Linked DNA regions of Homo sapiens. The protein of the gene in region 3 purifies or fractionates together with the protein of the main gene of each other region. This does not show direct contact. Each region holds a gene or a part of one and is shown on either strand. Other genes may lie near its edges. The genes, in order: RILPL1, GNA11 and CMIP.

Evidence for each region.
Region 1: the proteins of CMIP (region 3) and RILPL1 purify together in Homo sapiens (affinity purification with mass spectrometry; one large-scale study listed by BioGRID and IntAct). This does not show direct contact.
Region 2: the proteins of CMIP (region 3) and GNA11 purify together in Homo sapiens (affinity purification with mass spectrometry; one large-scale study listed by BioGRID and IntAct). This does not show direct contact.

Annotation. Positions count from the first base shown.
Region 1 is NC_000012.12:123,523,702-123,527,242, forward strand, and holds part of RILPL1 (RILP-like protein 1), read right to left. Parts: intron 1,258-3,541; exon of another isoform or gene 327-1,257; intron 1-326. UniProt on the Homo sapiens protein: Plays a role in the regulation of cell shape and polarity. Plays a role in cellular protein transport, including protein transport away from primary cilia.
Region 2 is NC_000019.10:3,092,922-3,097,190, reverse strand, and holds the start of GNA11 (guanine nucleotide-binding protein subunit alpha-11), read right to left. Parts: upstream 2,830-4,269; 5' UTR 2,540-2,829; coding exon 2,404-2,539; intron 1-2,403. UniProt on the Homo sapiens protein: Guanine nucleotide-binding proteins (G proteins) function as transducers downstream of G protein-coupled receptors (GPCRs) in numerous signaling cascades.
Region 3 is NC_000016.10:81,443,447-81,447,610, reverse strand, and holds the start of CMIP (C-Maf-inducing protein), read right to left. Parts: upstream 2,804-4,164; 5' UTR 2,370-2,803; coding exon 2,070-2,369; intron 1-2,069. UniProt on the Homo sapiens protein: Plays a role in T-cell signaling pathway. Isoform 2 may play a role in T-helper 2 (Th2) signaling pathway and seems to represent the first proximal signaling protein that links T-cell receptor-mediated signal to the activation of c-Maf Th2 specific factor.

The DNA.
Region 1 (3,541 bases), on a different chromosome or scaffold from region 3:
CCACTCCGACCCTCAGGGGCAGCTTGGGTTGCTGGGACTTTGGGCCATCCCCTTCCTCGTGAGAACTGGGCCGGCAAGGCCACCACGAGTCCCATATGGCACCTCTGCAAGAAACAGAAGCCACCCTTCTTTGGGGCAGATGCCTGCGTTTATGCTGTTAGGACCTGGCTCAGTTAGAACTGCCCCCAAGGACAACCACAAAGCTAATGCCGCATCTTGGAGCTCTCTTCAGAGTAGACAGAGCAGCCCCAGGATACGGGGGTCCGAACGTTCCTAACCTCTGGGGGGCACACCCCCTGATCTCTGGACAGACAGTTGGGACAAACCTTTCTCCAAGGGAGCCAGAGGCCTCGAGAATCCTGGGGATGCCGAGGCAGACGGGGCCCCCTGCCCCAGCGTTCCTTAGGTATCTGATCCAGGTATCTCTCCATGGGGTCTTCAACCACTGACTCGATCACCCTGAGCCTCAGTTTCCCTCAGTGGTGGAACCAAAACAAAGGCTCACGAAGTGAATGTGAGGATAAATAAAATCAGTCTATTAAAGTTATTTTGTGGGTGGCTGCAGTCAAAGAAATAGCCAATAACAAGTGCTGACAAGGATAGGAAGAAACTGGAACCCTCCTACACTGCTGGTGGGAATGGAAAATGCTGCGGACATTTTGGAAAACACTCTGGCAGTTTCGCAAAAACATTAACACAGAGTTACCATAGGACCCAGCAACTCCAGTCCTTGGATCGGCTCAAGAGGTATGAACACAATGTCCACATGAAAACGCGTGCAGGTGAATGTTCCTCGCAGCATTATTCCCAGTACCCAAAAGGAGCCAAGTGTCCATCAGCTGATGAATGGGTAAATAAACATGGCACATCCATACAATGGAACATTATTCGGCCATGAAAAGGAATGAAAGCCTGACATATGCTACAACATAGGTGGACCCTGAAAACATTATGGAAAGAAGCCAGACACAAAAGGTCACATGTTATATGATCAGTTTTACAAAATGTCTAATATTGGCAAATCCATAGAGATAGGAAGCAGACGGGTGGTTGTCTAGAGCCAGAGTGCTAGAGGGGAGACGAGGAATGACTGGGAATAGGTACGGAGTTTCTTTTGGGGGGTGATGAAAATGTTCTAAGATTGATAGTGGCAGGGCGTGGTGGCTCACGCCTGGAATCCCAGCACTTGGGAGGCCAAGGCAGGCGGATCACTTGAGGTCAGAAGTCCATGACCAGCCTGGCCAACATGGCGAAACCCCATCTCTACTAAAAATACAAAAATTAGCTGGGTGTGGTGGTGGGCACCTGTAATCCCAGCTACTCGGGAGGCTGAGGCAGGAGAATTACTTGAAGCTGGGAAGCGGAGTTTGCAGTGAGTCAAGATTATGCTACTGCACTCCAGCCTGGGTGACAGAGTGAGACTCTGTCTTGGAAAAAATAATAATAATAAATAAAATAAAATTGATGGTGATCATAATGACGGCTGCAAAACTCTAAAAACCACTGAAGTGTACATCTTATTTATTTATTTTTAGAGACAGGGTCTTGTTCTGTCACCCAGGCTGGAGTGCAGTGACACAGTTATAGCTCATTGCAGCCTTGAACTCCTGGGCTCAAGTGATCCTCCCACCTCAGCCTCCCAGTAGCTGGGACTACAGGCAGACGCCACCATGACTGGCTAATTTTTTTTTTTTTTTTTAGAGATGGGGTATTGCTGGCTGAGTGTGGTGGATCATGCCTGTAACCTCAGCACTTTGGGAGGCCGAGGTGGGCAGATCACTTGAGGTCAGGAGTTCGAGACCAGCCTGACCAATATGGTGAAACCCTGTCTCTACTAAAAATACAAAAAATTAGCCGGGTGTGGTGGCAGACACCTGTAATCCCAGCTACTCAGGAGGCTGAGGCAGGAGAACTGCTTGAATCTCAGAGGTGGAGGTTGTGGTGAGCTGGGATTGTACCACTGCACTCCAGCCTGGGTGACAGAGTGAGACACTGTCTCAAAAAAAAAAAAAAAAAAAAAAAAGAAACAAATGGGGTATTGCTATGTTGCCCAGGCTTGTCTCAACCTCCAGGGCTCAAGCAATCTTCCCACCTTGGCCTCCCAAAGTGCTGGGAGTACAGGCGTGAGCCACCGTGCCCAGCCAGAAGTGTACACTTTAAATGAGTGTTATGGTATCTGAATTATATTGATAAAGCTGGTAGCCCTCCACCCCCGCAAAAAACAAACAAACAAACAAACAAACAAAAAAACGGTACTTGGTAAAACCGTAAGCTAGCTCACAAAGCAGGGTTGCTGTTGTCTGTATAAAACAGTGGTTTAAGGGCCAGGCGCAGTGGCTCACACCTGTAATCCTGGCACCTTGGGAGGCCAAGGCAGGCGGATCACTTGAGGTCAGGAGTTTGAGACCAGCCTGGCCAGCATGGCAAAACCCCGTCTCTACTGAAAATACAAAAATTAGCCGGGCATGGTGGTGGGCACCTGTAATCCCCGCTACTTGGGAAGCTGAGCCAGGAGAACTGCTTGAACCTGAGAGGCAGAGGCTGTAGTGAGCCGAGATCAAGCCACTGCACTCCAGCCTGGGGCACAGAATGAGACTCCATGTCAAAAAATAAAATTAAAATAAAATAAATAAAAAATAAAATAAAATAGTGGTTCAAGGCATGGACACTGGAGCCTGCCGCCCTAAGTCTGAATCCTGTTTCTGCTGCTTACTAGCTGACCTTGGCGAGTTATTCAGCCTTCTGGTGCCCCACAAATGAGGAAACTAGTGTGGTATCTGCCGGGAAGGGTGGGTGTGAGGATTAAATGGTTACTATAAGTAAAGCGCCTGGAATATGCCCGGCACCCAGAAAGCACTAACAATGTGTGTGCTGATCTCTGTCCCATCCCTACAATTCATCACAAGCGGCCAGGTGGCCGGATGCTAGGCATGGCCTCTGTCCATCTTCTAAATAAGTTCTCAGACCCACCTCCTTTGTCAGAAGCCTGCTGCATTGGGGAAGAGAGGAGTAATAGCCTAGTATTTGCACAGAGGGCGCAAGGTCACCAGGGGAGGTGAAGGGCAGGGCCGGGGTGGAAGTGGTGGTGGAGGGATGGAGAGGGAATGTTGACCTCCCATAAGCAGATGGGGCCTGGAAGCAGAAAGAGGCTCATCCAGCCCTGTTCCTCTCTGTTTCCAATTGGCATAGGCTGGGCTCACACGGGGCTCAGAGAATATCAGTCAAGTGTAACTGGCTGGGGCAGGGAGAATAATGGCTCTTAAAGTCATCCAAGTCCTAATCCCTGAGAATATGTTACCTTACATGGCAAAAGGGACTGTGCAGAGATGATTAAGTTAAGGATCTTAGGCATGGCACGGTGGCTCATACCTATAATCCTTGTAATTTAGGAGGCTGAGGTGGGAGCATTGATTTAGGCTAGGAGTTTGAGAACAGCCTGGGCAACATGGCAAAACTCTGTCTCTATAAAAAATACAAAAATTAGCTGGGCGTGGTAGTGCATGCCTGTAGTACCAGCTACTTGGGAGGCTGAGGTGGGAGG
Region 2 (4,269 bases), on a different chromosome or scaffold from region 3:
TCCTTCCGGGGAGCCTCGGCCCCACCCTCTAGCTGCTCCCTGAAAAACGGGGGCAATCGCAAGCTCGGGGCTGGCCTACTGGGAGAGTGGAATGAGTTCCCACAAGCAGGCAGGGAGCCTGACAGAGGTCCCCTCCCCTGCACCCTGAGGCCCCAGCCCCTGGACCTCAGGTGGTCAAAGTCCTCCCAGCAAGGGGCCCTCCAGCTGGGATGCAAGGTTGCTTGGACGGGAAGTTTTCTGAGGGTCTGTCGCATCAGATTCCCAAAGGGGTCCCTGGCTCCAACACCTTGGGTGTGAAGCCCTCCCAACCCCCTGACAGCCCCGGCTCTCTGCGTGGCACTGACACCAGTCCTCCTTGGGTCGCACGTGAGCTCACATCTTCCTCACTGTCCTATCTGCCACGCCTGGCCCTGAGCCTGACAGCAACCTCCCGTCTTACAGGCTGATAGGGGTCAACTTTCAGGCTCACAGAGTGGGAGGGGGTGGGACTGCAGACACAGGTGCTCCTGCAGCAGACACCCCCGGGCCACAGGCGGGCACTGGACAGAGGATGCGGGAAGGGCCGCATCACTTCCAGACTTGCTCCAAGCAGCCAAGGCGGCAGACACGGGAGCCCCTGACCTTCGTCCTTGAACCCCGTGTCAATCTCAAGTCCAAAGTGCAGGCACAGAAGACCGGGTGCATGCAGGGATGGCGGCGGGGGTTCTGGAGGTCACAGAGCCACAGGGCAAGGCCATCTGGTAAGATCTTTATGACACCAGTAATTCCTAACTCCCCTCCATCCAAACAAAGTCCACGACCCACTACAAAAGCCAGCCAGTGCCACTCTGTGCAAAGTGCCACCACGCGGGCCGCACTGCACATTTCCTCCAAACGTGAGGACCACGGCTCTGCCTACCCGCGGCCCCCTGGAAAGATGGCCCATTTTAGAACCCTTAGGTAAATCAAAACACAAGTTTGGGGAAAAAAATCAGGAAGGCGTTTCATCCAAGGCACCTCTGTAACCCGGGACACGGAGGGCCCTAAGAGGCTCACGGCAGGAGAGGCAACGTGTTCCCCACACAACATGCGACCTGCCTCCTCCCCAAGAGCCACCGCCACCAGCACGCCCCCTCCTCCGTCACCGCTGCCTCTCACGCATTTCCGACCTTCCCCACCGCCCCGCCCCCGGCCCAGGAGCTAACCTAGGAGCTCGGGAGGGCAGGGGCGGGGCAGGGCAAGAGCTTCTGTTTTGTAAACCACTGAAGGGGCCCTTATTTGGAGTGACAACACTTTACAGCTGGCCCGACTGGCTCCCTGCAGCAGGTGTGCCTTGGGGAGAAGGAGGTTCACCAGCAAACCTTCTCCAGGACGGTGGGGAGGAGCCGGCAGGTGGGGGGCTGCTCTCAACGAGGACTCAGCGTGGCTCCCACCAGGACTCTAAGGAAGGGGGCGGGGGAGGCTGCCGAGATAGCTGCTTGGGACAACAAGCAAAGGCTCCCTCAGGTGTCAACCGCCCCACCCTCAGCTGAGCGGAACCCTGAGGAGAGGAAAGACTGTCTTTTTCCCACAGGGTGCATTCCAGCCAAGAGGAGTACGGGGTTTCCCGGAACAGGAAGGCAGGAGAATGGCCCTGAAGGGAATGTGGGGATAGGGGACACGGAGGAGTCTTCGGGGGGATGGGGGGGTGTACAGGGCCTGCATGGAGGGTACAGGGCCTGCATGGAGTGTACAGGGCTCTGCCTGGAGGGAAGGGTCAACGCGGGGCCCTGAGCAGTGAGGGGTGAGTGTGCCCTGTGGGTTACAGCCCAAAGGTCTGGCCCTGAAGGGGTAGCGAGGGGTGGGTACTCCGGTGGGGTAAGGTCAGAAGGTCCCTGTGCAGGGAGGGACTGGTCCCTTGAGAAGGAACAGAGGGCAAATCCTGAAGAGTCCTGGAGGCCCAATGTAGACAGCAGAAGCTGGGAGCTGACCTAGGAGTGATCGGGGGCCTGATCCAGACAGGACAGACACAGGCTGACACCGGAGAGTCCCAGGTGCCAACATGAACAGTTAAGGCAGGGGCTGACCCCAAAGAAATCAGGGGCCCGCAGCTGACCCCGGAGGGTCCCAGGTGCCGACCTAGACAGCAAAGGCAGGGCTGACCCCAGAGGGTCCCGAGCCGACCCAGACGACACAGGCAGGGCTGATCCCGGAGGGCCCCGCCCCGACCCGGACAGGCAGTGAAGGCACAGGCAGGGCTGACACTCGAGGGTCCCGCGACCCGGACAGGCAGGGAAGGCACAGGCAGGGCTGACCCCGGAGGGTCTCGCGACCCGGACGGCACAGGCAGGGCTGACCCCGGAGGGTCCCGGCCCGACCCGGACAGGCAGGGCAGGCACAGGCAGGGCAGGGCCCGCAGCCGGCAGGCCCGGGGGCCGCACTCACCGAGCAGCAGCAGCTTGAGCTCGCGCCGGGCGTCGCGCTTGTCCCGCCGCAGCTGCTTCTCGATCTCGGCGTTGATCCGCTTGGACTCCTTCACCTCATCGCTCAGGCAACACGCCATCATGGACTCCAGAGTCATCGTCCCGGCCCCGGCCGACGCGGCCGCCTGCCCGCCGCCGCCCCCCGGCCCCCGGCCCGGCCCTGGCCGGAGCCGCCTCGGCCGCCGCCCGCCGCGGCCCTCCGGCCTCGGCCACCGGCCCTCGGCCCCGGGCCGGCCCGCCCCGCCTCGGCCGCCGCCTGGCGAGCCGCCGGGTCCCCGCTCGGGCCGCGCCAGCCGCGGACTCCCGCGCGGCCGCACTCAGCCCGCGCCGCCGCCGCAGCCACCGCCAACCGCAGCCGCCGCAACCGAGCGACAGCGCCGGACAACCTAGCAGGCTGGGAGCGCAGCCCGCGACGGGCAGACGGTGCGGCCAATGGGAGGGGCCGGCGGCCAAGCGCGCCCACCATGGGGGCGGGACTAGCGGCCTGGGCGGGGCGTCGGCGGGCGCGAAAGGGGCGGGGCGGGGCGAGGGCGGGGGGCCCGCGGGTTTGGTTGCGCCGACGTGGGAAGGGGGACGCGCAGCCGGGAGCCGGGGCGGGGCCGCCCGGGATTGTGGGAATGTGGCGGACTCGGCCCGGCCAGGCTCGGCTCCGCTCGGCTCCGTTCGGCCCCGCTCGGTCCCGCTCGGCTCGGCCCAGGCGCGGTGGCGGAGGCGCGCACGCGGCCGCTGCGCTCTCTGGGTCTCCAGGTGCCTGGGCAGCAGTCGCTGCCCCCGGGAAGCGCCCTGACATTGCCTGACAGGAACCTTCACTCATCCATTAAAAAGCGTTAATGGAGGTCGGGCGCGGTGGCTCACGCCTGTAATCCCAGCACTTTGGAAGGCCGAGGCGGGCGGATCACCTGAGGTCTGGAGTTCGAGACCAGCCTGACCAACAGGGAGAAACGCCGTCTCTACTAAAACTACAAAATTAGCCCGGCGTGGTGGTGCACGCCCGTAATCCCAGCTACTCGGGAGGCTGAGGCAGGAGAATCACTTGAACCCAGGAGGCGGAGGTTGCAGTGAGCCGAGATCACGCCATTGCACTCCAGCCTGGGCAACAAGAACGAAACTCCGTCTCCAAAGAAAAAAAAAAAAAAAGAGGGCCGGGCGCGGTGGCTCACGCCTGTAATCCCAGCACTTTGGGAGGCCGAGGCGGGTGGATCACGAGGTCAGGAGATCGAGACTATCCTGGCTGACACGGTGAAACCCCGTCTCTACTAAAAATACAAAAAATTAGCCGGGCGTGGTGGCGGGCGCCTGTAGTCCCAGCTACTCGGGAGGCTGAGGCAGGAGAATGGCGTGAACCCGGGAGACGGAACTTGCAGTGAGCTGAGATCATGCCACTGCACTCCAGCCTGGGCGACAGAGCGAGACTCTGTCTCAAAAAAAAAAATTAAAAAGCGTTAATGGGACACCTACTGTGTATCAGGCATTAATGGGACACATTCTATATGCCAGGCACGGACCAGAGATTAATGGAGTGCCTGCTGTCCATCAGGTGTCAATCAGGCCTTACTGCAGTGCCTGCACCATTCCAGGCCAGGTATACGCATTCATGAAATGCCTACAGGATACCAGGCACTGCTGTAAGCCCGTTAAGCTAACCCTACCCAAGGGATATCTTTTTTTTCTTCTTCTTTTTTTGAGATGGAGTCTTGCTCTGTCGCCCAGGCTGGAGTGCAGGGGCGTGATCTAGGTTCATTGCACCCTCTGCCTCACAGGCTCTAGTGATTCTCCTGCCTCACCCTCCCAAGTAGCTGGGATTACAGGCGCGCCACCATGCCTGGCT
Region 3 (4,164 bases):
TCCATGGATAAGCCTCAGTCCCCAGTACTAGACAGGTGCTTTCCGGAAAGGCCCACACTACCGATGGTGCCACCTACCTGGGCTGGCCAAGGTGAGCGAGGGGCCTCTGGCTATTCAGGTCTTTCTTCCTTCCCTCTTTCTCTCAGATATACCTCCTGAGCAATCGGAGGTAAGTGGGGAGGCATTAGCCTCGAGAGCTGGCTTTCCGGAAACAGGACGGTAGCAGCGGGACACTCACTCCTGGCTTCTCCCAGAGGGAGAAGGGGCTCCTCCTGGCCTTCCCATGGCAGGTCACTGTTCCTTCTAACCATTTTCCTACCCCACCACCAACAACCCTTCATTTTGTGGAGTGTAAGAGGAAAAAAAAAAAAAAAGCCCAATAAAGTCCCCCTGAGCCAGGTGAAAATTCTGAAGCCAGATCTGGGGTCTCCAGAATCCAGGCAGGGGGCACCGCGGTCACCAGTTCCTCCCCACATCAGAAACACTCCGTACTGGCAAATTTTCGGAGGCTCTCTCCCGCCTCCATCCATTGGAAAGCCAAATGCTGCGGCCTGTGGCGCGGGACGGGCTTGAGAACATGCACCAGCCTGACCGGGGACTGGGCCGCCTCCCCGCGACCAGCAATCCTCCCTGAAAAAGGAGTCTTTGCAGATATTGCACCAACGTGCCCACAGGAAAGAGAAAATAGGTGCTCTAAGCATGTCGGACCCCAAATTAAGAATAAAAGTCCTCGAGGGCTGCAACGCTCTGGGGTGGGGGGTGGGGGACTGGTTCAAAGAGTAGGATTCTTCAGCTAACTTTTCCCCCCTCCCCATTCCTTGGGGCATGTGTCATGGCCTGTGACACACCGCCAAGGGAACATGGATGCCAGGGAAATGTCTACACACGCTACACGTTTGTGACATGCCATGTAAGCGACACCCTATTTCCTGGCTGGGTTTTCTTGGCACAGGTGTGGGCAGGCAGTGGATTCGGCCCCCTCCCACTGCGCTTAGTAAACAGGATCACGGTGGCCCCAGGGAGGAGTGTGCATTCTGGGGAAGACAAGCTACACCCCCAATGAGGATGGGACCCCCACGGCAAGCCTCAGGCCCAAGCCACAGCCGGTATTTGAAACTGTCCTTGTTTCAAAACACAAAGCATCCTGTTCAGGCTCCTACCCGCCACCCCCACTCTCCCCTCGACCCCACCACAGCTGTCTTTCTCCACGTACGAAGAAGGCCACCATTTGCAGATCTGATTTCAGAAACAGATCAATGGTTTTTCCTCTCCGACTCATCCAGCTGACCCAGTCCTACCCATGTATTTAAAAACAATAACAAAATTAAACCTCCAGCAACAAAACACACACGTATACACACACTCTACAGACAATGCCGGACCAGGGCTCCACCAAGCAGCTTCTAGGCTAGAACTCGACCACCGCTGGGTCCTGAGATATTCCAGGACCACTGCCCCCTCCCCCTCCACTTCCAACCTCTCAATGTGCGAATGAGATTTTCAGAAAGGGAAGCACCCCGTTCTGCCTGCCAGCCCTGGCAGGAAAGAGAATAAAGGACGGGTAAACCAAACAGAGAAACTGGCTTCTGGAAATTCTTTGGGTTTGGGGGTTTGGAGGTTTTGTTGTGTTGTTTGTTTTTTTTTTTAAATCTGAGGGGTGGTATTTTGTTTTCCCCTCCCCCACCCCTCAGATCCAGATGGGCCAGGGGCTTCCAGAGAGAACCCCCACCACCATCAGGGCCCAGCGTCGGGTCCATCCTCGAGTCCCAGCCACCAGAAACACAAGAGCTGGGGGCAGAAGGTCCCCAGGCACCCAGCCTGGCGGTGGGCCGAGTCTCCAGCATTTTAAGGGTCTCTCCTGAGCCCGGTCGGCTGGTTTGGGCTTCAGACTCCAAAATCGAGCCCCGCGAGCAGGCCAGGAGCGAGGCGCCCTGGTTCTCCCCGTTCCCCCGGCACCCCCCACCGCCCCCCAGGCCCTGGGCTCCAGGTGCAGCGCCAGGGGGCAGCCAGGGAGGGCGCATCTCGGGCCCCGAGGAGAGGCGGGGGTGCAGCCGCGCAGAGCCACTCACCGTGGCGGACGCCAGGCTGTTGTCGGCCAGCGTTAGGTGGTGCGGCTCCCAGCGCCTCAGGAATTTCGAGGTGAGGATCTTGCTGAGAAAGGTCCGCGGGTGCCGGATGACACAGACCTGAATGTCGCCCTCCTGCAGCAGTTTGTACCTCATCCCGTTGCAAAGCAGAAGAGCCCGGCGGCAGGGCACGGCGCCCATCTTCGTGCCTTCGGGGGCCGACACGTCGCCCCCCAGCAGCGGCTTGGTCTCCTCGATCTGCCGGGGGTCGCCGCCGCCGCCCGAGCTGCTGGTCACATCCATGGCCGCGCCGGGGGAGGGGGCTGGGGGCGGGGAGAGGGGGCTGTCCTGGGCTGCTGGGGCGGCGGGGCCCCCGGATCCGGCGGCCCGCACCCCCCCACCCCCCGGGAAGGTGGGGGGGTGTGGGGCTGGGGGCGCCCGCAGGGGAGGGGGCGCTGCCCGCGGGGGGCGGCGCGTGCGGCGGGCTGGGCCGGCCTCGGCGCTTCCTGCGGGGCTCCGGGCTTCCTCCTAGCTCGTCGGGTGCATGCTCGCGGCGGCTGACCGGGCTCGGCGGGCGACGGGGAGGGGCGGGGGAGGCCGAGGGCGGGCCGGGGCCAGGCGCGGAGGGCGGGCGCCGGGGTGGGGGCGGCGGGGTGGGGGCGGGCGTGTCTCGGGGCCCCGCGCCGCCGCGCGCGTGTGTACAGAGCGTGTGTCCGCGCGGCCGTCCGGGCGAGAGTGGCCGCGGGCGGGGCGGGCCGCGCGCCGGGCTCCCGGAGCCCGGGGCGCCCGCGCGATTGGTCCCCGCAGGGTCATGTGCCCGCCCCTCTGACGTCAATGGCGGCAACGGCGGCGGCCGCGGCGGCTTCGGCCTCTCGCGGGCGGAGTCCGCGGTCCGGGCGGGGTCGCGGCCCACGACGGGGAGGCGCGGCCCGACGGGAGGGGCAGCCCCTGGGGAGGGGGCTGGGGCGGGCGAGCCCCGCGGGGTCCCGGCCCGCCCCGCCTGGAATGTGGGGAGGGGGCGGGGCGCGGGGGCGGGGCGCGTGACGTCACGCCAGCCGCGCCCCCGCGGGTGCCCGGGCGGGAGCCCAGCCAGGCTGCCGGAGCCTGGGGGCCCGCGCCTCACCCACCCCCGCCGCCCCCGGGCCGGACTCGGACGGGTAAAGAAGGATACCCGAGGGCCGGGGGCTGGGTGGAAGGACGGGGACTGGAACCCTCGACCCCTGACGCCCCCTCCGCTGTCCAGGCTGTCCAGCGGGCTGGCCAGATGGGGCCGTGGGACGGGGACGCCTTCCCGACTGAAAGTGTCCCCGCGGTGATCCGGAGGATGAGCCCACCCTGCCCTGTCTCCCACTGCGGGACCCAGCCGGCCTCGAACTCCTGGCCTTTGACGTCTGCTGGCTTTGGCCTTGGGGGTCCTCAAACCTTCTGGAGAGAGGGGACGGTCCGCCCATCCCCCTTCTTTCTTCTGCCCAGGGAGACAGAGCCTCTTCTAGGAACCCACTTAAAGCACCCCCCAACCTACACAGCCACCCCTCTTGTGCGCACCCCAGCAGCTCCCCCTACTTCACCTTCCCTGGGACCCCACCTGGTCATTTTATCTGAGTTCACAGGCCCAGCACCAGCCCACGAGAGAACCATATTCGATTCTCTTGTGACCCAGGGTATCAGGAACTGCAGCCTGGATGCAAAAAGCTCCCTTTCTGCCATCACAAGCAGCCGGCACCTAAGGCCACCTAGCAAATGCTCAGCTCCTCAGCCAGGTTTTCTTATCTCCACGTGCTCCTGCAGCTAATAACGTTAAAACCCTAGATTTTTGCCTTTTTAAGTGAAGGCGCCTCTGTAGTGAACACATGAATGTGTGCAGCGTGTGTTGAACTGCGTCGTGAACACTGCGGAATATCCACAGCATCTGTGCCGTTGGTGGAAATTATTCACCCCCCCTCTCCCAAGAACAGGCAGCATGAAGGTGCTCCCCAGAGGACCCTCTCCCCGAGCCTGGCCAGGGTTTCAGGCAGGGGATGAAAGGCAGGTCCCAGGCTGCATCCCTCACCAAGGAAAGAAGACTCACATCCAGCCTGCCCAGGAGATGCCTCCTTGG